Linked DNA regions of Homo sapiens. The protein of the gene in region 3 interacts with the protein of the main gene of each other region in a pairwise test. Each region holds a gene or a part of one and is shown on either strand. Other genes may lie near its edges. The genes, in order: NAT8, STARD4, MTIF3 and HTATIP2.

The links.
Region 1: the proteins of MTIF3 (region 3) and NAT8 interact in binary tests that used the Homo sapiens proteins (3 or more experiments, as listed by UniProt).
Region 2: the proteins of MTIF3 (region 3) and STARD4 interact in binary tests that used the Homo sapiens proteins (3 or more experiments, as listed by UniProt).
Region 4: the proteins of MTIF3 (region 3) and HTATIP2 interact in binary tests that used the Homo sapiens proteins (3 or more experiments, as listed by UniProt).

The regions. Positions count from the first base shown.
Region 1 is NC_000002.12:73,640,208-73,647,229, forward strand, and holds NAT8 (N-acetyltransferase 8), read right to left. Parts: upstream 2,216-7,022; 5' UTR 2,111-2,215; intron 1,496-2,110; 5' UTR 1,422-1,495; coding exon 738-1,421; 3' UTR 516-737; downstream 1-515. UniProt on the Homo sapiens protein: Endoplasmic reticulum (ER)-membrane-bound lysine N-acetyltransferase catalyzing the N6-acetylation of lysine residues in the lumen of the ER in various proteins, including PROM1 and BACE1, using acetyl-CoA as acetyl donor.
Region 2 is NC_000005.10:111,495,519-111,502,550, reverse strand, and holds the end of STARD4 (stAR-related lipid transfer protein 4), read left to right. Parts: intron 1-462; coding exon 463-589; intron 590-1,434; coding exon 1,435-1,549; coding exon of another isoform or gene 1,550-1,632; exon of another isoform or gene 1,633-2,080; coding exon of another isoform or gene 2,081-2,097; exon of another isoform or gene 2,098-2,386; intron 2,387-2,444; coding exon 2,445-2,665; 3' UTR 2,666-6,518; downstream 6,519-7,032. UniProt on the Homo sapiens protein: Involved in the intracellular transport of cholesterol. Binds cholesterol or other sterols.
Region 3 is NC_000013.11:27,435,115-27,440,568, forward strand, and holds the end of MTIF3 (translation initiation factor IF-3, mitochondrial), read right to left. Parts: intron 5,336-5,454; 5' UTR 5,335-5,335; coding exon 4,875-5,334; intron 2,160-4,874; coding exon 2,002-2,159; intron 780-2,001; coding exon 561-779; 3' UTR 529-560; downstream 1-528. Other genes in the region: GTF3A (transcription factor IIIA), read left to right, coding at 19-78, 319-483. UniProt on the Homo sapiens protein: IF-3 binds to the 28S ribosomal subunit and shifts the equilibrium between 55S ribosomes and their 39S and 28S subunits in favor of the free subunits, thus enhancing the availability of 28S subunits on which protein synthesis initiation begins.
Region 4 is NC_000011.10:20,373,706-20,380,737, forward strand, and holds part of HTATIP2 (protein HTATIP2), read left to right. Parts: intron 1-2,874; coding exon 2,875-3,012; intron 3,013-7,032. UniProt on the Homo sapiens protein: Represses translation by preventing reactivation of elongation factor eEF1A. May also inhibit nuclear import by competing with nuclear import substrates for binding to a subset of nuclear transport receptors.

The DNA.
Region 1 (7,022 bases), on a different chromosome or scaffold from region 3:
TAAATTACCCAGTCTCAGGTATTCTGTTATGATCCCCTGGAAGAGTTATACTACTTCCAGGTCTAGCCCATGGTAAATCCCACACTCCCCTCTGAGGCCACCTTCTTCCCTCTGCAGAGACCCTGGAGTTAGAGTGGATTGGTTGTGTCTCTGGCCCCAATTCTTCTCCCGAGGCTGCATTCCACCCTTTTGCTATGTGACTTTGCAGCCCTTCTCACTGCAGAGACAGGTTCCTCTCCTTGAGTTTGGGGAAGATGCAACACATGCAGGGGTTTGAAAACACATTTGTTTGTTTCTGCTTTTGTTTTTGCTCCTCTGCAATTTCCTTGAAACCATGCCTGAGGTAGCCTGTGGGAAAACGAAACAGCACCATTGACCTAGTCTTTCAGCCAATCCCACTGCATTTGTACAATGCAGTCTGACACCAGAGGAACTGCCCAGCCAAGCTCAGGCAAAATTGCTGACTTCAGACTCATGAACTAAATAAATATTTGTTTCATTTGGTGGTTGTTCTTATGCAACATTATGCTGGCACTAGAAAAATGAAACAGATGGGAATCAAAAAGACTGAATGAAGCAGAAACCCAGAAGCTACCCCACAAGCAATCACATGGGACTCAGATGTGAATGGACAATAAGCTTTTATTGCATTGAAAGGTCATTGCAGTGAAAGGTTGGGGATTGCTTGCTGCTACAGCTGAATGGATTCTATTCTGACCAATACACACAGAAAGAGATCACAGACTCCCTACCTTAGAAGAAGGGAGGTGGTAGATGAAATGAACTGTATGAAGAGCCACTAGCCTGGCCCACACACAGAAGAAGGACTGGCCCGTCTTCTTGAAGCCCATGCTCTGGTAGAGGGCCATAGCAGAGAGCTGGATGGTGCCGGTGTCCAGGATAACTTCACTGTAGCCCTGGTCCCGGGCAAACTGGAGGACAGTCCTGACCAGGGCTTTTGCTATCCCCTGACGACGGTGCTCACTGTCCACAAAGAGATGAAACAGCTGCAACCGCTTCTCCCTCAAGGTGGGATCATCAACAGGCAGAGCTCCTACCATGCCCACCACCTTCTCTTCAGACTCAGCCACCCAGAAGCAGGAGCCACGCTCACTCAGGTAGGATTTGGTAATGTCAGACATGTCTGTGCACAATGTCATGTCCACATACTCCGTCCAGGGTTTTTTGGCAAGGAACCACAGGGCAGGGAAGAGGCTGATGCTGAACACGAGGGCTAGAAGCCAGGATCCAGAGACCAGGAGTAGGGCGAGGGGCCCCCCAAGTAAGAGTATGAGGGTTCGAGGCAGCTTCAGCAATTGCCGGAAGGTGGCTGGGGCATGCTCGGCCATCCCCCGGGAGAGCAAGCCCACAACCCACTGGCGGTCGCTCTCCTGGTATTTGCGGATGTGACAAGGAGCCATGGACAGACTTCTGTGTCTGAAATCTCTAAGTCCAGGAGACAGAGCTAGGCCTCCCTGCACGCCTTTACGTCAGACTGGGGAAGAGAGAGAAAATCATGTGAGTGCCTGCATGGCTCCCAGCCTTGCAGGAACAGGGAGACCTGCTCAAGGGTGTGTCTTTCCGCGTTTGCCCATGAGGAAGCAGGCCTCTGCCACTGGGAGAAGGTAGGGTCAGAAAGACCTGCATTGGAATCTGGTTCCATCCCTTTCTAGCTGTGTGACCTTAGGCATGTCACTTAACCTCTCTGAGCCTCCATTTCTTCAACTATAGAACAGGGGAGAAGAAAACCTGCCTTCTAGAGTTGTTTTGAAGATTGAATAAGATGCCTTCTATAAAGCCCTGGTAGATGAACTACCCACCGCTCTTCCTTTTTCTGTTTCCTTTTTCTGGCTCTCTCAGCTTCTCCGTGCATTGAGGGGGCACCTACCTCAGGCAGGCCACACGTGCAACCCTTTTGTCCTTCTCCAGGGACCATACATCGCAAAAATTCTCTGTCCAACACAAGTTTCAGGAAAGGCTCCCTCCAGCTTTATTGTAAGTTTTTAGGTTGCTGAAGTGGCATAAGAGCCAAGCATAAAAAACAGCCCAGCCTCCAGATCCCAAGGAAGGTGCATGCTCAGAGCACTGTCCTTCCACCCAGTCCCCTCACCTGTCACCACAAGAGCCTTGAGTGTCCAGGGAGCTTCAGCTCTCAGCCGCTCACTGGCATCCAGGAGATACCGTCTGGGGCTTGCTCACCCCTGGAAAGTAGACTGCCTGCCTTATTGCTTGGCTCCTGAATGTTTGGTAATCATCAACCCTAGGGTCAAAGAGCTGGGCTGTAACACAGCAGGGAGCCCAGTGTGCATTCCTCTTTGTGGTCAAAGGGAACGACCTGGAGGGGGAGACTCAGGGTCTGGAACCGCCTGGGTTCCTTGCCCTTCTGGAAGGCCTGCCACCTCTCTTGCCTGTTCAGGCCCCGTGCATCTCTCTGCCACCTGGCACACTTAGTACTCTCGGTCCCTGTCCACATATACGATCCACCCTGGTCCTTGTACACATATACGACGAGCCTGAGAACTGTACCATTCACCCTGCAATCAGTCACCATTGGCCAGAAGCCGAGTCCCCATGCTTGGCAACAAGGCCCTTCCCAGCTAGGCTTCTCCTCGCTGAGGTTTCCCTGGTCCACGAAGCATCTGTTGTTGGCAGTTCCTTGCACTCACCTCACCAACCCCCATCTCCACCCATTCATTGATTCAGTCAACAGTTGTGTGTCATGCACTTCCTGTGTCCTGGGGTCATTTCAGCCATGAGCAAGGTTGACATTCGGCTTGACAGGCATGGCTGTGTGTGGCTTGTGTGTGTTCTGGCTGTTGGTCAGAGGCTGTGCCACACCCGTTGTTAAATATTTTGCACTGCAGATGTTGGGGAGGCCCAAATTCATGCTCTTGTACCCGACGTGGAGCTGATCCCAAACACTGACACATGGGTGCTTGGAGATAGAGAAAGTTGTATTCGATTTGGCCAAAGCAAGAAGGCAGGAGAGCAAGATCTCTCAACTTCAGTTCAACAAAGAAGCAGCAGCAGAATGTTTTTATGCAGCTAGAGAGTGAGGAAGGGGGAGTTCAGGGGGATTGAGAGGAAAAGTCTGTGTTTCCTCAGTCTGAGATAACACCTTGTGCAACCAGGCTTCTCAGTGTCAGCAGCTGGTCACAGTGTCCTTCAAGGCATTCATTCATTCTGCAAACTTTTCCTGACCCTGAAGGAATGTCTTCCTGCTGAACAAAGAAACAGTACATGAGCAGTTTATCATTATGTTGTGGGAACAAGGAATATTGGACCAAAAGCAAGTGGTTAACATGTGCAAGCCAGCAACGGTCTGATCAGAATGTTCATTATTTCAGTCACTAAAACATGGTGTGGTGCTGAAATCTCAAGGGGCCCAATTACAAGGATGCAACATATACAAGATAGGCAAAAGCAAAACCTAACAGAAAAAGCCCTTTTCCACACCAACTTACATGCTATTGAAGGGAAACTTCCCTTCCAAAGATTAGCTAACCTATTGATGATCAGCCACGCTGGGCCCGTCATCTAGGTTAGGTAGTTTGGACTCTATTCCAAGAGCAAGGGGAGGACATTGATATGCACGGAGGGGAGGAGGTGTGTGTGTGTGTGTGTGTGCGCACGCAAGCATCACTCTGGCTGCAGGTGGACAATGGATCTGAGGAGGTAGGAATGGAAGCAGCTACCCCTCAAGGCTCATGCCACATCCAGGCAAGAGCGGGGCCTCCAGTACAGGGATGCAGGTGCTCACTGTACAAGAGCAGCTGGCCCAGAGGCTCTGGTGGGAGCTAAAACTGGGCCTCCCTCTGGTTGCCAAGCCATGAGCCATGGCACGAAACTGAGACTGGCCAAAGGAAAAGGCAACCTTTTCTTATTTGCTCAAAGGCGTTGCTTGCCTGCTAAACTCTGCATCCAGTGGGCTGCATGGCTTGAGGCTGTGCCTAGCTCTGGGTTCACAAAGAAGCCGCCTGGGTTAGCAGAGGCCCATGAGACAGCAGTGGCTTCACCAGAGGGAGGAAGTCAAGAAGGTGAGACATGAGCCGTATGGAGGTGCATTTGGGGCAGAAATGGCAGGAGTTGGAATGATTCACACAGGGAGGAGGATGAGGAAGGGCTCAGAGACGACAGCCAGGCTTCTGGTAGGGGCATTCAGGAAAACACTGGAGAGAGCCCAGATCTGGAAAAGTCAAGGCTTCCCCTAAAGGTGCTGCCCTGCAGCCTTCTTCAGCAGAAACCAGAAGCTGGGAGTCAGCAGCAGGAACCCAGGGCCAGCCAGTGGAGGCTGCTGAGATTCCAGATCTTTGGTACCCAACACCACCTCCGAGGAAAAGTCTAAGGAGCATCAAGTCTGGGCAGGAAGTCCATGGCTCATCTTTAGAGTGTTCTCGCAACATTTCAGTGTCAAGCAGGAGTTGGCCTAGGAATCAAAAGAGGTGAGCGGTGGCTCCAAAGCACCACTGAGTACTTCTAGTGTGAGTCTAACCAATATTCAGTCAGAAACCTGCCGGTCACGTGGAGGGGGAGAGGTTTGTGCTCCGTCCCTGTGTGCTGTCTCTCCCTCCATGCTCACCCGTGGCTGTGGCTTCCTCAAAACACAGCGACCTCACTTGACATTCAGGCGTCTCTTGCTCCCAGGATTTACTGTGACTTCTGCATTTTTGTAGCTTTCCTGATAAAAGCCTGGGCTTTCCTTGTCGGACCTGAAAGATTCATTTATTCATTCAACAAACAGTGGCCGAAGGCTTGTTATGTGCTGTGCCTGGACTTGGCATGAAGGCACCAGATGTCAGAAGCGAGGCTGCTGCCCAGGAGGACACACCTGATGGGGCTCTGGGACCAGGACGATGGTGGAGACATCACATCCGGAATAACTTTGTTAGGAAGGTGAACTTGACAGTTAGGACTTAGTTCTCCTTGAAGACGTCCTTCACATCCCTTGTGAGTTGGATTCCTAGGTATTTTATTCTCTTTGAAGCAATTGTGAATGGGAGTTCACTCATGATTTGGCTCTCTGTCTTTTATTGGTGTACTTGTGATTTTTGCACATTGATTTTGTATCCTGAGACTTTGCTGAATTTGCTTGTCAGCTTAACGAGATTTTTGGGCTGGGATGATGGAGTTTCTTTTGTGGGCATTTAGTGCTATAAATTTCCCTCTACACACTGCTTTAAATGTGTCCCAGAGATTCTGGTCTTTGTTCTCATTGGTTTCAAAGAACATCTTTATTTCTGCCTTCATTTCATTATGTACCCAGTAGTCATTCAGGAGCAGGTTCAGTTTCCATGTAGCTGAGTGGTTTTGAGTGAGTTTCTTAATCCTGAGTTCTAGTTTGACTGCAATGTGGTCTGAGAGACAGTTTGTTGTAATTTCTGTTCTTTTACATTTGCTGAGGAGTGCTTTACTTCCACCTATGTGGTCAATTTTGGAATAAGTGCGATGTGGTGCTGAGAAGAATGTATATTCTGTTGATTTGGGGTGGAGACTTCTGTAGATGTCTATTAGGTCTGCTTGGTGCAGAGCTGAGTTCAATTCCTGGATAGCCTTGTTAACTTTCTGTCTCGTTGATCTGTCTAAAGTTGACAGTGGGGTGTTAAAGTCTCCCATTATTATTGTGGTGGGAGTTTAAGTCTCTTTGTAGGTCTCTAAGGACTTGCTTTATGAATCTGGGTGCTCCTGTATTGGGTGCATATGTATTTAGGATAGTGAGCTCTTCTTGTTGAATTGATCCCTTTACCTTTATGTAATGGCCTTCTTTGTCTCTTTTGATCTTTGTTGGTTTAAAGTCTGTTTTATCAGAGACTAGGATTGCAACCCCTGCCTTTTTTTGTTTTCCATTTGCTTGGTAGATCTTCCTCCATCCCTTTGTTTTGAGCCTGTGTGTGTCTCTGCACGTGTAATGGGTCTCCTGATGGTCACACTGATGGGTCTTGACTCTTTATCCAATTTGCCAGTCTGTGTCTTTTAATTGGAGCATTCAGCCCATTTACATTTAAGGTTAATATTGTTATGTGTGAATTTGATCCTGTCATTATGATGTTAGCTGGTTATTTTGCTCATTAGTTGATGAAGTTTCTTCCTAGCATCGACGGTCTTTACAATTTGGCATGTTTTTGCAGTGGCTGGTACCGGTTGTTCCCTTCCAGGTTTAGTGCTTCCTTCAGGAGCTCTTGTAGGGCAGGCATGGTGGTGACAAAATCTCTCAGCATTTGCTTGTCTGTAAAGAATTTTATTTCTCCTTCACTTACGAAGCTTAGTTTGGCTGGATATGAAATTCTGGGTTGAAAATTCTTTTCTTTAAGAATGTTGAATACTGGCCCCCACTCTCTTCTGGATTGGAGTTTCTGCCAAGAGATCAGCTGTTAGTCTGATGGGCTTCCCTTTGTGGGTAACCCGACCTTTCTCTCTGGCTGCCCTTAACATTTTGTCCTTCATTTCAACTTTGGTGAATCTGACAATTATGTGTCTTGGAGTTGCTCTTCTCGAGGAGTATCTTTGTGGCGTTCTCTGTATTTCCTGAATTTGAATGTTGGCCTGCCTTGCTAGGTTGGGGAAGTTCTCCTGGATAATATCCTGCAGAGTATTTTCCAACTTGGTTCCATTCTCCTCATCACTTTCAGGTACACAAATTAGATGTAGATTTGGTCTTTTCACATAGTCTCATATTTCTTGGAGGCTTTGTTTGTTTCTTTTTACTCTTTTTTCTCTAAACTTCTCTTCTCGCTTCATTTCATTCATTTGATCTTCAATCACTGATACCCTTTCTTCCAGTTGATCGAATTGGCTACTGAGGCTTGTGCATTTATCACATAGTTCTCATGCCATGGTTTTCAGCTCCATCAGGTCATTTAAGGACTTCTCTACCCTGGTTATTCTAGTTAGCCATTCGTCTAATCTTTTTTCAAACTTTTTAGCTTCTTTGCGATGGGTTTGAACTTTCTGCTTTAGCTTCGAAAAGTTTGATTGTCTGAAGCCTTCTTGTCTCAACTCGTCAAAGTCATTCTCTGTCCAGCTTT
Region 2 (7,032 bases), on a different chromosome or scaffold from region 3:
AAGTGCTGGGATTACAGGCATGAGCCACCATGCCTGGCCCACCCTTCACTAATTTTTATTCTTTTATTTTTATTTTTTTTTTGAGATGGAATCTCACTCCGTCACCTAGGCTGGAGTGCAGTGGCATGATCTTGGCTCACTGCAACCTCCACCTCCGGGGTTCAAGTGATTCTCCTGCCTCAGCCTCCCAACTAGCTGGGACTACAGGCGCATGCCACCATGCCTGGCTAATTTTTGTAATTTTAGTAGAGACAGGTTTTTGCCACGTTGGCCAGGCTGGTCTTGAACTCCTGACGTCAAGTGATCCACTCACCTCAGCCTCCCAGAATGCTGGGATTACAGACATGAGCCACCCTACCCGGCCTAATTTTTTTCCTTACTTTCAAAGTTAGCTATGCACTATAAGGGTATGCTGAAATTTTTTTATTGTAACAGCGGTTGACTTAAACTTTTTTTCTCCAGCTACAAAGCCCAAGGTGTTATAGATGACCTTGTCTATAGTATAATAGACCATATACGCCCAGGGCCTTGTCGTTTGGATTGGGACAGCTTGATGACTTCTTTGGATATTCTGGAGAACTTTGAAGAGGTATCTATTTAGAAACATTACTTTAGACTGTGTGTATGTGCATGAGGGAGGGCATGAGTGAGCCAGAGCATGTGAGCATGAGCATTTGTACACACTTATATTCATTGCTTTGAGAATAGCAGTCACGACAAAGATATCACAGGGGAGTCCCATGCTGCCTCTTAAAAAGTTTGTGTTTCCTCATACTAATTAATGAGTGTTAGACTGAGTTTCTTTTCCACAGTACCTATACCCTTGCTGCTTAAAACTATATTCAGCATCCTTCATTGTAAAACTTTAGTTAAGATTCTGAAATCTAAAATTCTGAAAACACCACCATCATATTTAGGTTTCTAGGTGAATGTGTGCAGCTTTTCCATTAATACTAAGCCAACATCAATGACCAAAGATAAAAATGCCACCTTAGATATTCTAAAATTATATAGCCAAAATGACCTGCCCTGTTTCTATTTTTATTAATTCATTGCTTAATGTTTGAATTTTTTACTTAAAATGTTTGATGTTGCAGTCAAAGTATTTGTGGATTTGATCTTAAACACTGAAACAGTCTACATCCCTAATTCCATTTGGAATGTTATGTAGAATAAGACAACTGCATTTAATTAGATATTTGGATACTGGATAACTTGTACCTCTGTATTTTGATTATATATCTTCTTCATGGCCATCCAATAGCAGTGAGATTTAGAATAGAGATCTAGACCTGTCAGAATCAGTGTAAGAATTATTATAATTATGAAACATTTTAAATAAATATTAGTTTCTTTCCAGAGATAAGTTTATGATATATGAAGCTATGTATGTTTCCTATAGTAGTAACACTTGTCTTATCTCTTCTTTTTCAGAATTGCTGTGTGATGCGTTACACTACTGCTGGTCAGCTTTGGAATATAATTTCCCCAAGAGAATTTGTTGATTTCTCCTATACTGTGGGCTATAAAGAAGGGCTTTTATCTTGTGGTAATAATCTCAACATGTTATGCTTTTTTTCAGTATGGTTTAAATATTTGTGTTTTCTTGGCTGGATGTCTCTTTCCTTGTGAGATATATTTTCAACTCTGACTCTGTAATCACTAACATTTTTTGCAAGTGCTAAACTCTAGGGAGTAAAATAGCAATATCAAAAGAGTTTTGAAACCCTTCTGATAAGTTTTTGTTCCCAGTTACACAGTATCCTCTAGGTCAGAGGTAGCAAATGTGGATCACATGACTGCCTCTAAGAAAGGGTTCTAGTAAATGGATTTTCTTCTAAGCCACTCTCAGAAAACAGTTTCTTGGTCATACACAGAGAAGTACTAGATTTGGTGTGTCTTAGAATATTCTTCCTTCCTTGAGCTGTGTTGTATTTTTCTTTTCAAGATTAAAAATACTGCCATTGGAAGGCTCCTGTTTTCTAAAACGTACCTATAGGTAAATTAATATTATTTTGTATATAGTGTATACTTAAGTTAGCAGTTGTAAGTAAACATCTACTTGTTTATTCTTAACTAGCCAGTACCAAACTATAATATGGTAGTCGCTGTGGGGAATAGTTACGGTACCATGGATTTGATTTTTGGCACCTCAAGGCCTGGATACTACAACCAAGATTTGTAGCTTCCAAGGAGTACTAAGATGATATGATGTCATGTATTCTGAAAGGATTAAAAGTTTCCCCATTACCTATCTGCCAACCTCTTGTCAGAATTCTCCTTGGTAAGTCTCTTTTTCACTCTGCCATGGTCACTTTGGGATTTAATTTTCATCTATATGGATAATAATAAATATTTAAATAAGAATTCTGGTAATATTTTAAAATGAGAGTTTTATGTCAGTTATTGCTATTAATAGTGCTATTTTAAAAATTGCCTTATAGGAATAAGTCTTGACTGGGATGAAAAGAGACCAGAATTTGTTCGAGGATATAACCATCCCTGTGGTTGGTTTTGTGTTCCACTTAAAGACAACCCAAACCAGAGTCTTTTGACAGGATATATTCAGACAGATCTGCGTGGGATGATTCCTCAGTCTGCGGTAGATACAGCCATGGCAAGCACTTTAACCAACTTCTATGGTGATTTACGAAAAGCTTTATGAGAGGCAAAATACATTCAAACTTGTAGTACTACAGATCAACTCTCTCAGCTACATGGCCTGTAAAAATCATTGATTCCACTTTTCTGCATAGCCGGTAGAAAAATTTGAAATGTTTTTGGTTCACTAGTACAATGTTTGGTTTTATTCCTAAAGTAAATAGCTATCTAAGAGAGGGCATTTTCACTTTTTTTTTTTTAAATTTTGAGACAGGCTCTCACTCTGTTGCCCATGCTGGAGGGCAGTGGTATGATCACAGCTCACTGCAGCTTTGATCTGACCGCTCAAGGGGTTATTCTACCTCAGCCTCCTGAATAGCTGGGAATACAGGTGCACGCCACTATGCATGGCTAATTTTTGTTTAATTTTTTGTAGAGATGTGGTCACACTGTGTTGCCCAGGCTGGTCTTGAACTCCTGGCCTCAAGTCATTCCCCACCTTAGCCTCCCAAAGTGTTGGGATTATAAGCGTGAGCCACCATGCCTGGCCCCAATTTAAAATGTGGAATTCAGTTGGTGTCCAAGACTTATCTTGAGACTCTTAAAAGCATCAGTCTGTAACTAGAACAAATACAGTCTTAGATTTACCCAAGTGCCTAGATATCATTTTATAATGATTAGAATTGAGTATTGTGGGTCCCCTAATTCTGTGGGTGCCTTAAGTGAGAATTTCTAAATGATTTTCACATTCTAAATGACTTTGGGTTTTGAACTCTCCATCTAGTTTACTTCTAAAATGGGAACTTGAGGCAATTCAGGTATCCAGGCAAATCTTTGTATATATTTTTTTGTGTACATGCACACATCTCGAAATCCATTTCCGTGTTTAATGTTAGTTGTTTATGTGTTAGTATTCCTGTGTCTACTGTTTTGTTGTTGTTAATATGGGTAAAGTGAGCCCTGAAATACATGCTAAACAAGACATGAAATGCAGAAAGGTACATAGTGTTTCAAGTGCATGGTAGTTTGATCTGTGTTTTACTTTATTGTGTTTTCTTGAGTGTAAAGAAAGAATAAATCAAAGTTCTTCATACCCATTTTGACAAAGTGGAACAGTGGAGCTGTTTTTTGCTTTTGTTTTTATTTATTTTTTGCCACTGGTGATGATAGATTTCAAAAAACAAAAGGTGGCAGCAGCACAATGTTCATGGTGAATTATCTCATAGTATCTAGATTGATCAAGATCTGACAGAAGGAATGCACAAAGGATTCTATATTCTTAATGATTTATTAATTACCAGGATCCTTTTCTAAATTGAATGTACTTTTGAATTACTAGGTTTCTTCTTTTTTTTTGTTCTGCAATAGTGAAAGAAAACTCAGTAGTTTAGTTTCAGTTTCTCATGGAAATTGGTAAATGTTAGTTTTGACTTCATCTATTTTTTATTTGTTTTTATTAGCGTAGAGTAGGAAGTCTCATATTCTACTGTTCTATCTAGGATGGTGAAATTCCAAAGGTGCCTAACTTGAGTAAGGGATTTGTGACAAGATAGTACACATTACTATAAGGGCTATTATTTCCTGAACTGGATGTCCCTAAAAGCAAATAAACTGCCCACTATCTCTACTCTAGTGCTCTCTTTGTCCTTATCAACATATACCTCCAATAAGTAATTACATAATTCACCGTTAAACATGGACCCACTCTAGGTAAAATTACCCTCATGGAAACATTTTCACTGTGAGAATGATGAATTTAAAAATTATGTTTGAATCACCTAAAATGTATGTGCAGCTTCTAGATGGCCCCTTAGATCTGCTGGGCTCTAGCTGTGTACTTTAAAAAAACAAAAACAGCTTTATTGATATATAATTTACATATTATGTAATTTACCCACTTTTAAGTATCTAATTCAGTGATGTTTTAATACATATGTAGAACTATGCAGCCATCAGCACAATCTGGATTTAGAACGTTTCCATCATTCCAAAAGATTCCTTTTGTCTTTTTTGCAGACTCATACCTAACACAAATCTAAAGTTTATCACTGTTGCCAGGATAATTACAGCAGGTTATGTTTGGTTTCATTTTTAAGAGTGGAGGTGTTCATGATTCTAAGCTCAGGAATCTTGTGATCATGTATTAAATATGTTATCTCATACTATAATGATAAAAAAGCTTAATGATGTGGGTTGGGATGGATATTAACATAAATAATTGAGTCCGCTGCTTCTATAGCAATGCTGTAGGATAGAACAATAATGTAAGTGATATATGTAATTAAAAAATTCTAGAAGCCACATTAAAAAATAAAAATAAACAGCTGAAGTTAATTTTAATATTTTATTTAACTCAATACATCCAAAATGTTATCATTTTAACATGTAATTGATGTAAAGATTTATTCTGATAGTTTGTACTATTTCTTGTACTAATTTTTTGAAATCTGGTATGCATTTTACAAATTTGGGCAAGCCACATTTTAAGTGCTCATTAGCCACATGAGGCCAGTGGATACTGTATTGAATAGCACAGTCCTATAGCATATTTATTAATTTGTCTTGTAGTAAGATGAAATAGACAATAATACGGAATAATATCTTAAATGGAAATCTTTGTTAGTCTCTAGAGCCTTCATTGCTTGATAAATAGGACATCTAAACTTTAGATATAAATCAGTTGTCAATGAGATAAAATTATTGCCAGCAAATATTTTCCTTCAAAGATAAGTAACTTTTGATATGGCAGTTGGTGAAATGAAAGAATATAATCTGCCTTCTTGTTAAATGGTTGACTATTCTGTAGCTTGTAGGTAGTACGTATTAGAAACTTGTGTATGTGGGAAATATTTGGCATAATACTGTTTTCAGTATATAGTAGCTATTTTTTAAGGAAATTAGTTTCATACAAGAAAAAGATTATTATAAAAGTGATACTTTTGCATGAAATATTAGTTTGTGTTGATAACTCTTAGTTAACCCTTAAAGTTTAAAACAGTACTCAAAAAAAAATAATGAGAATCTAGTATTCTGTAGTTAACTAATCTATAAGATAAATTGCTAAAGTACTAGGGAGCTTGTAAATCTTAAAAATCTTTTTATTTCAGTGTTCATTCAGGTTGGATATATTTGAAATTGTAGATTTCTATCTGTACAACATCTCCTAGTTAATAGAATTTTTTTCCTTCCCCTCCCTTCTCTCTCCTCCTCCTTTTCTAACCAAAGGGCATTTTATCAACAATCATGCTGAATTCAATTAATATCTCAAGCTAAAAAACTATGTAATTGAGGTTGTATCTGGAGAAGATGGGAAAACATTGTATAATTTAAGCCCTTAATTGTCTGTTGAGCTTTTAGGGCTGAGTAATTGCCTTTCATACAAATAAAAGCTTTAACTCTTTTCTCAAGAGTGTACCACCGTCCTTAGAATCAGGTGTTTTAAATCCAGTTTCTTTTAATTAAATGGGACTGTAGTGATCCCTACCCTGTAGAGAAATCAACAGAACTAGAGAAGCTAAGGGCTTGATCAGGTTTCCCCTAGAACCTGTGTTGCCTGCCTGCTGTATCTTCCATGTCTTTCTTATTCAACTTCTAGAAGTAGAGAAGGTTGGGACTTGAGTGTAGAAGAAACATCAGAATAATTTCAAAAAACAGGAAGTTGGAACTATAATTTTTAAATTATTGTATTGTTTTTACGGATTTTACATGTATAGTTAAATATTAAAATTCATCTCTTGCAGTTCAATAAAAGCTATAGTATAGATTTTATTTTTAAGAAGTTTATATAATTCTTTTGTGAACCAATATGTAAAACTAGAATATTTATTAAACTAATAATATGTATTAGTATCAATAAAATATGTATTTATTTTTAAATTGGTATGAAACAAAATAAAAATTTGTAGACACTCTTAAAATTGGTCATTGATATTATCTTTGTAATTTAACATTAAGTACTATTTAGTTTCATATGCCTGAATTTAAAGTATGTAATTTAACTTCCTGAATTCTTACAAAAGGAAAATATAAACCTGGAAAGTCAAATTAACAACACACATGCTGATCTCTCCTGCCAGTGTCTCATATAATATTAGCTGTTATACAATACTGCTGAAACTTTATTTGCTATTATATATTCAGAACAAATAATATATTGTGCCTTTGTAAATTATGGACAGGATTTATTGTACACATGTTGAAATAATTGTGTTACCTTGATTAGGAATTATGATATTTTGTTTGGAATTGAAAAAAACTAAAAGTGATTACAAGGACACCCACGATCTATGTTATAAGAAGGCAGTTAGGGATGCTGTGGTAAGTATGTAATAGAAAATATGACTGTGAAGCAGGGAGTTACTTTCCTCATTTAATAAAACATCTGGTACTATGGTTTGAATATTTGTGTTCCCCTAAAACGCAGATGTTAAA
Region 3 (5,454 bases):
CTTTCTCTTTCATTGTAGCAAAGTCTCACTAGGCATGCTGTTGTACATGATCCTGACAAGAAGAAAATGAAGCTCAAAGTAAGTTGAAACTACTTAGGCAAGCTTAGTTTTCAAGTGGAAATTGTTTAAGGCCAGAAGGAGTCTGTTTGGAATTCTTTTCACCTGCTTTACTGTTTGAGTCTGCACTACTGTTGAAGACTTTACTTCCTCATAAAGCAATGTTGTACACTATATCTGCTGGTACATATGACTATCGTAAAATTAACTCAGACAGTTTTGATTTTGAATTCTAATCGTGTGTCTTCCTTATTCCCAAAGGTCAAAAAATCTCGTGAAAAACGGAGTTTGGCCTCTCATCTCAGTGGATATATCCCTCCCAAAAGGAAACAAGGGCAAGGCTTATCTTTGTGTCAAAACGGAGAGTCACCCAACTGTGTGGAAGACAAGATGCTCTCGACAGTTGCAGTACTTACCCTTGGCTAAGAACTGCACTGCTTTGTTTAAAGGACTGCAGACCAAGGAGCGAGCTTTCTCTCAGAGCATGCTTTTCTTTATTAAAATTACTGATGCAGAACATTTGATTCCTTATCATTTCCATGGTCTTTGTTCAAAGTGTCTCTTTCCTGGGTCTCTTGAGTTTCTTTATATGCCTTCTCCTCATTTTTGCTGAAAGCACGAAGAACACACATTAAAGCTTTTCCTCCTTGAACAGCTTGTGGCCTAGATGAGAATGTAGCTATTCCAGGCATAGTCTGGAGTATTTGATGAAATATCTCCTCCTAAAAAAGGGAAACAGCCAAAGATTAATTTAAAATCAGAGGCTTTGGTGCTTTCTAATGTTCTGCTTGAACATTCACAAAAACTGGCACCCTTGAATTGCTGCTGTCGGTTAAGTGATTAGCTAATCAGTTCATACGTATCTGGTTAAGTTGACTGAAATCTGTACAATAACACCATGTAACTAAACTGACATGCTGAATGCTTCCTAATTTTAAATCTCCACTTCGTCATGGCACGAAGAGGCTACGTTTGGCTCAGCATTACCCTCTCCCACAAACAGAAAGCACTGGGTTTGGGCATTGGCAAAATACCTCCTCATCCCCAAGGTGTCAGCCGAGCAGTTCTCAGCACTCTCTATTGCCCCTAACAGAGTCTCTCTCAGTGACTGAAACAAATGGATACCTGGGCTCAAGAAATTCTGCATCAGCTGGGTTGCGACCTATGCTTAAGTGACTCTACTGTGGAGCTGGATTACTAAGGATACCCTTAGTGGATGATAAAGTTATCTAACTTTTAAAAAAAAAAAGCAAAATAGGTATTCCATAAACTTATGGGATTGGAAACTACACACTTTCTAGAAGACAGTCTACGTAATTAATGCCCCTATAAGTACAAAGAAGAAACAAAAAATCTATAAAGTTTCTAATTTTCCTGTTTAAGGGTTATTCTACAATTTATAAAACAATAGTATATTGCTTTTAAGGAATAATGTGTTCATATGGCAAAATACGCTGTAATGGAAACTATATCTACAGTATGCTTAGTTTTGAAAAGCAAACTAGAAAGCTGTTAACATCACTGGGTGGAAGAATTACCAGTCACTTTGTCTTTATATTTCAGATTTTCTACAATTTTTTTTTTTTTTTTTTTTTTTTGAGACGGAGTCTTGCTCTGTCACCCAGGCTGGAGTGCAGTGGCGCGATCTCGGCTCACTGCAAGCTCCGCCTCCCGGGTTCACGCCATTCTCCTGCCTCAGCTTCCCCAGTAGCTGGGACTACAGGTGCCCGCCACCACGCCTGGCTAATTTTTTGTATTTTTAGTAGAGACGGGGTTTCACCATGTTAGCCAGGTTGGTCTCAATCTCCTGATCTCGTGATCCGCCCACCTTGGCCTCCCAAAATGCTGGGATTACAGGCGTGAGCCACCGCGCCTGGCCTACAATTGTATTTTTAGATCAGAAGACCCAAAGCACAAGCAGTGGCTTGTACCTTCTTTACTTACCATTTCATTTTCTGACACGTCTACATTTTTTCCTTTCTTTATGGTAATCTGGACTAGGTGTTTTTTCTTAATCCACTGCTGAATCTGTTTAGTCTTTGTGTCCAAATCATGTTGTCCAATATTTGAAGACAAAATCAGTTCCTTTCTCAGGGTTGGTCCTGGTTTGAAACAGATAGGGTGCAAGGACTACTGACTAGTCCACTGTGAACCCTGAACTTCCCAACATGCCCATCATAAAATCCTAGGTTGCCACCTGACAATCTTCTCATCTGGCTTTCAGTTTCACAGACCAGTAAATGTCTTTTCAAATGGGGAAGATACACATAAAGGTACCAATTTTTTACCTGCCCTGGAAGGGTACTTAAAATCTGAAATGCTTCCATTTATTGTTAACCATCGTTTGTTGAAAGAACACCAAAAGATAGTCGTTTAAAGGATCAAGTTTGGCTTCATGGTGCACTTAACATCCTTATCTATCAGCTGTGGGTTGGCATCTGGGAGTGCACTACCCACTCCTTTTGAGATGCTCTCCTTGCTATAAGGGGTCAGCCAGACTGTTGGACAGGTAAGGGTCCCTACATCCTGTGTTCATGCCCTCTGTCTCCAGAAATCCTGCCTACTGGAAAATTATAGAGAAGGAACCGGCCACTCAATAAAGGTGTTGGGACAATTGAGAAGTTTATAGATGACAAAAAGTTAGGTCTCCCCAGGTATACTAATGTTCTACAGGTGAAAAATACAACTTTAAAACAAACAGAAGAAAAGACAGAATGGTTTGTGATCTCAGGATAGGGGATGGAACTCATTAAGAAAAAAAGGCAAAATGAAAAATCTAACTGGGATACGGTTTTTTCCATCATACACAACAGAGAACCCTATAAATCGGAGAAAAACCATCTACGTAGAAAAATAAAGGAATATAAACACGCAATTCACAGAAGAAAAAAGTGAAATACACATTAATTTCTCACCATTAAAATGACAAATGAGGGAGGAGGTAGAGAAACTGCATACACTGCTGCTGAGCAGTTTGATCCATTTAGGTTCATAGACCCTAGAGTATGCACCAGGGTTCATCATAAAGATTGGGGGCCAGGTGTGCTGGCTCACGCCTATAATCCCAGCACTTTGGGAGGCTGAAGCAGGCAGATCGTTGGAGCTCAGGAGTTCAAGACCTGAGCAACATAGCGAGACCCCATCTCTACAAAAAAAAAAAAAAAAAAAAAAGGCCAGGCATGGTGGTGTGCACCTGTGGTCCCAGCTGTGTGGGAGGCAGAGGTGGGAGGATTGCTGGATCCCAGGAGATGGAGGCTGCAGTGAGCCGAAATCACACCACAGCACTCCAGCCTGGGCAACAGAGCAAGACTGTTTTTTTTTTTTTTTTTTTTTTTTTTAAACACAGGGTCTCGCTCTGTCACCCAGGCTGAAGTGCAGTGGCATGATCATGGTTCTTCACTGCAGCCTTTGCCTCCTAGGCTCAAGTGATCCTCCCACCTCAGCCTCCCAAGTAGCTGGGATCACAGGTTTGCACCACTACACCTTGCTAATTTTAAAATTTTTTGTAGAGATGGGGTTTTGCTATATTGCCCAGGCTGGTATTGAATTCCTGAGCTCAAGCCATCCACCTGCCTTGGCCTCCCAAAGTGCTGGGATTACAGACGTGAGCCACCACGCCCAGTGACCTTTTTTTTTTTAAGTGACATAGTTTGACGTCATTATCCTCCCTGGTTGGTCTCTTCTGAATATTGTTTTCCAGTCAACATCCTTGTTAAATGTGGCATTACAAAACTGAGCCGCAGATAACATGTGGTTTTCTGAAGGCACACAACCTCACGATGCAGTGCTGGGAGCAGTCATCTGATGCCTGTCCCCGTGCGCCATCCATTGAACTTTCATAATGATTGGCACTTTTTAGGAACTATGAAAAACAAACATCTTTGCTTAATATCCAATTCCTGACTTCTGTGAGGCTTAAATGACAAGTGCCTCGTCAAGTGACTGGTTGTATATCTAAGAGTGTTGCTACTGATATTGCAACACAATGCTTTGGCATGGGAGATGCTCTGTGAATCACTTCAGAGTCGAAAAGGTGCTTCCAGGCTAGGCGCAGTGGATCACGCCTGTAATCCCAGCACTTTGGGAGGCCGAGGAGGGCAGATCACTTAAGGCCAGGAGTTCAAGACCAGCCTGGCCAACATGGTGAAACCCCCTCTCTATTAAAAATACAAAAATTAGCCGGGCGTGGTGGCGGGCGCCTGTAATCCCAGCCACTGGGGAGGCTAAGGCAGGAGAATCGCTTGAGCCTGGGAGGCGAAGGTTGCAGTGAGCACACATCGCACCACTGCACTCCAGCCTGGGCGGCAGGCAGAGACTCATCTCAAAAAAATAAAAAGGTGCTTCCAGATAATTAACCAAACACCTCCACTTTAGAGTTGAAGAAGGGGAAGAAAAACAAAAGGAGGGAGGTTAAATGAGTGGCCCGGCAGAGGGCAGGGAACTTGAATGTACCCCTCCTAATCTCACTCTGTTTCACCCCATCGGCTACTCAGCTTGCTGCGGCATTGGGAGAAGGCCACAGGACAGGGGAAAGAGTTCTCTTCACTTTGGTTTGTTTGCCTGGTTTCTCCCACATTTTACACAGGTTTAAAGGGAAGAGATAATGGGCAGGGTATTGTGGAAAAACAGTGAAAAAAAGGGAACAGGAGTAAGTGCAGGATAAAGGAGGAAAGACAGACACTGGGAATGGTGGTTGAATCATGAATTTTCTAGTTTCTCATTTCCCTCTTGTCACAGGCACCTTGACAAATGCTAGAATTTAAACTGCTGATTTGTAGCTCTTAAAGGATTCAGGGAGCCAACAGCAAAATACCTACCAGTTTTGGGGTTCGCCTTCTCCATCTCCCTCAGCCTCTGCCGCTCCTGGAGGATCTGCAATCCTGTCATGAGCTGATACTCTGCAGGTTCTGTGCTGGTGTTCCTTTGAACCAGTCGCAGGTCTCGCTCATCCATAAGTCTAATCACATTTGCTCGGTGCATGTTTCCCAAATCATTGCCCTTCTCATCAAATAAGTGAATAACTCGCTGACTAATTTTTCTTCCAACGTTACTAAAAGCTGTTTTATTCTTTTTTGTCTTTTTTCCTTCATTCTGGGTGTCTTCAGCGGTACTAAAGGCTTTTGCATGAATTAGGAAGGAGAGTCTTGGGGCAGAAGCAATAGGGGACAACTGTGCTGGTGCTGTCTTTTGCAGGATGTGTTTACCAAAACATCTAATGCAACTATTTTCAGACTTTACAGTTTGTAGTGTTAACCTCTTTAGAAAAAGAGCAGCCATCCTAAGAAAGTAGTAAGAAGAGTTCATTAAAATTCAATCACTTATTCCCTTGGTCTGACATTGTGGTACATGGCAGGGTGTGTGTGAGGTTGTGGAGGCTGTAACTGCAAGTGTGAGGGA
Region 4 (7,032 bases), on a different chromosome or scaffold from region 3:
CATGAGGGGAAGAAACAGATGTGGAAGAAAAATTTAGTGTCTTAGAATTTTTCTATGTAGTTTTGGGCTGTTTCTCTTGGCACACTTTCAGCACATCTAAAGTCTCCATTTGGAGAATGGCTCTGAGGGTAATCACTTCTCTCAGGATGTGCTGAGTACTTAAATTGGTTTGCTTTACACTAATTTTAAAAGCAACTGCATGAATTTGAGTCGGTATATAGACAGCTTGGCAAGTCCGTTGTTCAGGACTGAGTGTCAAAGTATACAACAAAAAGTATACAAAAGGAGATGGTGATGACTCGTGAGTAAAGAGGTAAGTTTATATTACCCACAAACTAAGGTAGAAAAAGTAAGGCAGAAAAATAACACTGTCCTCCAGGTGGTGGATATAGTTAAAAATGTACTTGTGAGTGATGGGAAAGGAGGATGAGGAAGGCTTTTACAGTAATGGTAATGTTCTATTTCTTGATCTTGGAACTGGTGGCAGAGCATGTTCAGTTTATGAAAATTTATTGAGCTCTATACTTATGTTTACTTTTATGATACACTTCCATACAAAGTTAAAAAATCTGCATGGGCGTATTGTTTTAAAATTGAATTCTGTATTAGTTTCCTATTGCTGCTTTAATAAATTCCTCAAATTTAGCAGCTTAAGACAACACAAATTTATCATCTTAGAAGTCTGACACGGGTTTACCTGAGATAAAATCAAGGTGTTGACAGAGCTGCATTCCTTTCTGGGAGGCTGTAGGACAGAAACCATTTCCATACGTTTTTCAGCTTCTAGAGGCCACCCCCATTCCTTGGCCTGTGGTCCCCTTACCATCCTTAAGGCCAGCAATGTGGTAGCTGAGCCCTTCTTAGGTTGCATTACTCCAGCCTGCTCTTCTGCCTCGTTCTTTTACTTTTAAGGGCCCTTGTGATTACATTGGGCCCACATGGATAATTCAAACTAATCTCTCTGTTTCAAGGCCAGCTGATTAGCACCCTAATTCTAAACACTGAATTTCTAAAACACTGAATTTCCCTTCCACATCTATTTCTTCCCCTCATGCCAGTTCACTAGAACTCTGATTTTAATAATGTGTTTGTTACAACAAAATGACACAGTTGACTGGTGAAATAAATTCAGTTTTTTTGTTGTTGTTGTTTTAGCATGATTCATCTTGCTTCTGCCTAAATACCATCTGTGATGGAATTCCCCCTTGTCATGTAACATGACATATTCACAAAGATTAGGACGTGGGCATCTTTGAGGGACCATTATTCTGCCTACCACAATCACGGATTAGTCATTTTCATTAGCGAGAGAGGGTGGGGGATAAAAAAGGAACATGGGTACAGTGAAAAGAGCACTGCTCAGAGTCCAGAATCTGCACTCTGCTCTCGGCTCTCCCACTTCCCAGCTAACAGTTCACCCGCCCACTGGACCTTGGTTCCTGTCTATATCATGAGGGGACTGGATGTGATATTTCCTAAGGTACCTTCTAACATTCTGTGAAAGATACACATCGCCCTACCAAATAGAACATTTAGAATCAGTAACTACTGAGGAGCAAATTTTTTAATTAAAAAAAAAAATCAGGCCGGGCGCGGTGGCTCACACCTGTAATCCCAGCACTTTGGAAGGCCAAGGTGGGCGGGTCATCTGAGGTCAGGAGTTCAAGACCAGCCTCGCTAACGTGGTGAAACCCTGTCTCTACTAAAATACAAAAATTAGCCGGACATGGTGACATGTGTCTATAATCCCAGCTACTTGGGAGGCTGAGGCAGGAGAATCACTTGAACTCAGGAGGCAGAGGTTGTGGTGAGTGGAGACCACGCCACTGCCCTCCAGCCTGGGCAACAGAGCAAGACTGTCTCAATCAATCAATCACTGGGGCAGTAGTCCAGTCTTCAGATTTGGAATTCCTACTACTCTAAGACCTCATTCTGTAATTGTGACTACCTATAAAGTTCAGCTTCAATAGACTTTAGACTTGTCTTCAGCTGTCTTGGGTTTGAAGATGCCAGAATTTATGGTGGTCTCAAGAGACTGTTACTCCTTGGAATTCCCTTTTCTGGGTAAAGGTGCATGCTTTTCAGTTAGGCCCTGGAAGTGAGTCTATATTCTGTTATTTGTGTCATTCTCTTCCCTCCCCCTTTTATTGCCACTTAGTTCTGTTTGTTTCTGACTGGATTTACCTTTTCTCTGCTTTCATTGGCGTTTTGTTCATTCATTTTTGGAGCATCTACCATATGCTGGACATGTGCTGATGCTGAGAGATGAATTAAGAAAAAAGACCCAGCCACTGCCTTCACTGGACTGAATCTAGATTGGGTGTCTCCAAACACTTTTGACTAGAGACCCATTAATAAAAACGTTTGAGGATGCATTCTTTACTAATGTGTGAGGTACATTGTAGAGCATACACAAAAATTGGGAATTAAATAGACTTTGTTCTCTTAGTGCCTGGGGAGTGTCCTCACCCATACTCGGAGACCCTACCACATTAGAATTGACACAGAAAACAGGAGTGTAAAGTTGTGAAGTTATTAAGACAAAAAAAAAAGTCTGGCTTAAAAGTAGTTTCTCAGCCTGATCTTACTGTTCCCTTTGTTCTTTGCAGATTTGTTTGGTGTCTGTGTTTCAATGTCATTGTCCTTGTTTCCTTATTGCAGTCCAGTCTTGCTGCTAAAGCTGGTGTGCCTATCCAGAGGACCAGACCTGGAGCCTTTCCCAGGGTCTAAGCCTGACTTTCATGTATTGCTTGGACACATTTTATTTAGATCTCCATCCTTCTAGGCCTCCCAGCCTGCTACCCAAGCCAAGTAGTAATCTTTAAGATGAACTTGCTGCTTTTTGGAAATAACTCATGTCCTTTTCCCCCTTAGGAGGGATTTGTTCGTGTTGACCGAGATTATGTGCTGAAGTCTGCAGAGCTGGCAAAAGCTGGAGGGTGCAAACATTTCAACTTGCTATCCTCTAAAGGAGCTGATAAATCAAGCAATTTTTTATATCTACAAGTTAAGGTTTGTGCAAGTTTCTGTTTTTCATACACTTTGGAGAACCCTAGCTATTTGGCAGTACTAAAGAATATAAAATATTATATAATACAAAAACCATCAAATGCATCATATTATGCATTTGTATGGCTACGGGACTGCAGGAATATATTTAGTAAACAGGAATGATTGGAAAGGTAATTTCCAATGTCTTCCTCTCTATTAATTATCCAGCAACAAATGGAATGAGATATGGCATCTCCAGCCTTGACTGTCAGCATGGCAGCTTAGCATTGGAAGAGACTTGGAGGCAGTGATTCTTAAACTTTTCCGTCAGTCTCCCTAATGACTGAGCGGAAAGAAGAGCTTTTATTTGTGTAGAGATTTGGAGAAATCTATCCTGAAGCAGTATTCTAGTTACAGACTCAACTTTCTTTTCTTTTTTTTTTTTTTGAGACAGGTTCCCAGGCTGGAGTGCAGTGGCATGATCTTGGCTCGCTGCAGCCTCTGCCCCGCCAAGTAACTGGGACTAGAGGCATGAGCCACCATGCCTGGCTAATTTTTGTATTTTTGGTAGAGATGGGGTTTTGCCATGTTGCCCAGGCTGGTCTCAAACTCCTGAGTTCAAATGATCAGCCCATCTCAGCCTCCCAAAGTGCTGGGATTACAGGTGTGAGCCACTGCGTCTGGCCTCAACTTTCTTAAAAGTCTTAACGTTTTATCTTTTAAAAATTTATGCACATTTTGCTATTCTTAGTACTATACATATCCCTGTTTATTTTAATTTAAAAGGTTTCTATTAACTTACCTTTCAGTTAAATTGATGCTGTTGGAAGATAGGCATGGCTTTGTCTTTGTGTGCCTCCCTTTGCACCCCAGGTGCCCACAGTTTAAGCAGCAGAGCCACAGAGGTCATTCAGCCATAGACTTTTCCTATGTGAAGTCCTTTTACAGAAGTTCATCTCCTTTCTGCTTAAATATCTCCAGCACTACAGAGATTACTATCTCGTTAGCCAACTTTTTCTATTTTGGGTCAGATCTACTTGTCCAAAAGTCTTTACCTTGAAGTGAAATTTATTGTTATGTAAATACAAATTGTTATCAGTTCTGCCTTTTAAAATAACAAAAATACGTCCAGTCTTTCTTTTGCATTGTAGTTTTTAAGACATTTGGAGATTATGACCCCCTTAATTGTATGTTTCCCAGGCATAACACCTTTAAATCCTTGCACCATTCTTTATGGGTTCCTGTGTCTAGCTCCTTCATGACTGCATCACTTTGCTAAGGGTGAACTTTGCAGTGATATTATACTGGAACTGCACTGGGAGTACTATTCATGCTCCGAACACTATGTTTTTTTAAAAAAATAGGATATAAGATTGTTACTATTTTACCAAACATCCTTATTATGTTGTTGGCTCATGATCAGCCTGTAATATTAAAAATTTCCAGATTTTTTTCACATGGCTTATAGCTGAGCCATATCTCACCTATCCTAAAATAGTATTTTGAACCAGATGAAGATCAGTGAGCCACCAATGAAATTACATGAAGAATGGAAAAGTTTCCACTTAATTGTCAGAGTTTAGAACAATTCTTAAAAGGAAAAAATCTGTTTTCCTTTTTTTTTAGAGTCAAAGTCTTGCTCTGTCACCCAGGTTGAAGTGCAGTGGTGCGGTCACAGCTCACTACAACCTCAGATTCCTGGGCTCAAACAATCTCCAGCCTCAACCTCCTGAGCAGCTGGGACTACAGGCATGAGGGATCAGGCCCAACTTGTTTTTTAAAACACTGACACATGTGGGTTCTGAGAAAGGTTATCAAATAGGATTTTTGCTCTCATTAGCAAGATCAACATTTATACCTTTTAGGAAAGAAAATATACATAAGATATTTCCTCATTGTTAAAGATAAAGGCGTTACTACTGACTCACTGGGTTATAATAATGATTTAACCAGATTTTTAAAAAAATAGCTAACACTAAATGAGCCAGGCAGTATTCTGAGGGCTTTTATGTGCATTTGCGTGGAAACAGGTACTGTGATATTAAGACCACCAGCTGTTGGCTGGGCACGGTGGCTCACGCCTGTAATTCTAGCACTTTGGGAGGCCGAGGTGGGAAGATCACTTGAGGCTGGGAGTTTGAAACCAGCCTGGGAAACGTGGCAAAACCCTGTCTGTACTAAAAATACAAAAATTAACTGGCACAGTGGTGTATGCCTGTAATCCCAGCTACTCGGGAGGCTGAGGCAGGAGAATTGCATGAACCCGGGAAGCAGAGGCTGCAGTGAGCCAAGATCACATCACTGCACTCCAGCTTGGGGACAGAGTGAGACTCTGTCTCAAAAACAAAACAAAACAAAACAAACAACAACAACAACAACAACAACAAAAACACCAGCTGTTAAGCGGCAAAGCTAGAGCTTGAACCCAGGCTGATTCCAAGGCCTATGCCACTAGCTATTAAGTAATGAATAGCCTTTGTCACTAATACATGCAAAAGGGACCCAGCAGAGATTGGACCGTGACAGAGCCTCAGCAAATATTAAGGCCAATACAACGGAAAGACACTTCTGATTTCACTGCAATTGGCCTGCATTACCTGCAGCCTGGGATTATGAATTAGATTAATAAAGGACAGAAATGACAACCAAATGATCCAACCCAGAATGACGCTGAACAATATATAATTGCTTTTACAATTTGGAAAGATTATCTTTCCAAAATAATCCTTCAACTACTGTGTGTAACATTCCTAGTATTTATTGCCTATTTTCTCAGCCTCCATGTGTGTATGAACTCCCCCGCCCCACCCAATTTTAGAAACTCCTTTATTGTTTAGGAACATTTATTCTACTCAATGAAGTTTCAATTGCATTCATTCATGGTGGGCCAGCTCTGGGGGCTTGGATCAATCATGTGCTTTATGGGCATTCTGCTGGTGCCGTGGGGAGACGTGTCAGGATGTGGAGCCCAGAGTACTGGATGGGCCTCATGTCCTCTGTTCTCAGGGTTTATAAGCTTTGGTTTCCTCATCTATTCAGGGTGAAGGTATACTTTCCAGACATGTGACATTTTATTATTGGGTATCATCCTTGACCTCAAGGAGTTTATAATCTGCTTGTATTGAGGGATCCTCAAAGACACCCCCAAGTTTGGTAATTCACTAGAAGGTTTCATAGGACTCAGCATATAGTCATACTCACAGCTACAACTTATCGCATTGAAAGGATATAGAGCAAAATCAGCAAAGGGAAAAGGTGTGTCGGGTGAAGTCTGGAGGAAAGTAGGTACAAGCTTCCAAGAGGCCTCTCCCCATAGAGCTTGCACAGGATGTGCTTAATGTCTCCAGCGATGAACGTTTTCTGCCAGAGAAACTCATCTGAGCCTAGGAATGCAGGGTTTTTATGGGAGCCAGTTACATAGGCACATTGGCCTAGCCAAATTGCAGCCCTCCAGAAGAAAGGCAAGTTTTCAGCATAAACCACATTGTTTGTACAGACAGTTTAGGCATAGTACATGACCCTTATCAGATAGGGAATGGTGGGAACACACCGAAAATCCAAGGTTGCAAGCACAAGCCAGGGGCCAAACTTGTAACAGGCCTTTCTAAGGATAGCAGTCTCAGCCTGCTATGGTATCTCTTTTATGCACACTGCTAATAGAGACAAAACAAATCTTTTAAAAAGCTAAGAAATGGGCTGGGCGCGGTGGCTCACGCCTGTAATCCCAGCGCTTTGGGAGGCCGAGGCGGGCGGATCACGAGGTCAGGAGATTGAGACCATCCTGGCTAACACGGTGAAACCCCGTCTCTACTAAAAATACAAAAAATTAGCCGGGCGTGATGGCAGGTGCCTGTAGTCCCAGCTGCTCGGGAGGCTGAGGCAGGAGAACGGCATGAACCCGGGAGGCGGAGCTTGCAGTGAGCTGAGATTGCGCCACTGCACTCCAGCCTGGGCGACAGAGTGAGACTCCATCTCAAAAAAAAAAAAAAAAAAAAGCTAAGAAATGTGTGTACACATAAAATCTTGTGTATGACTGTTCAT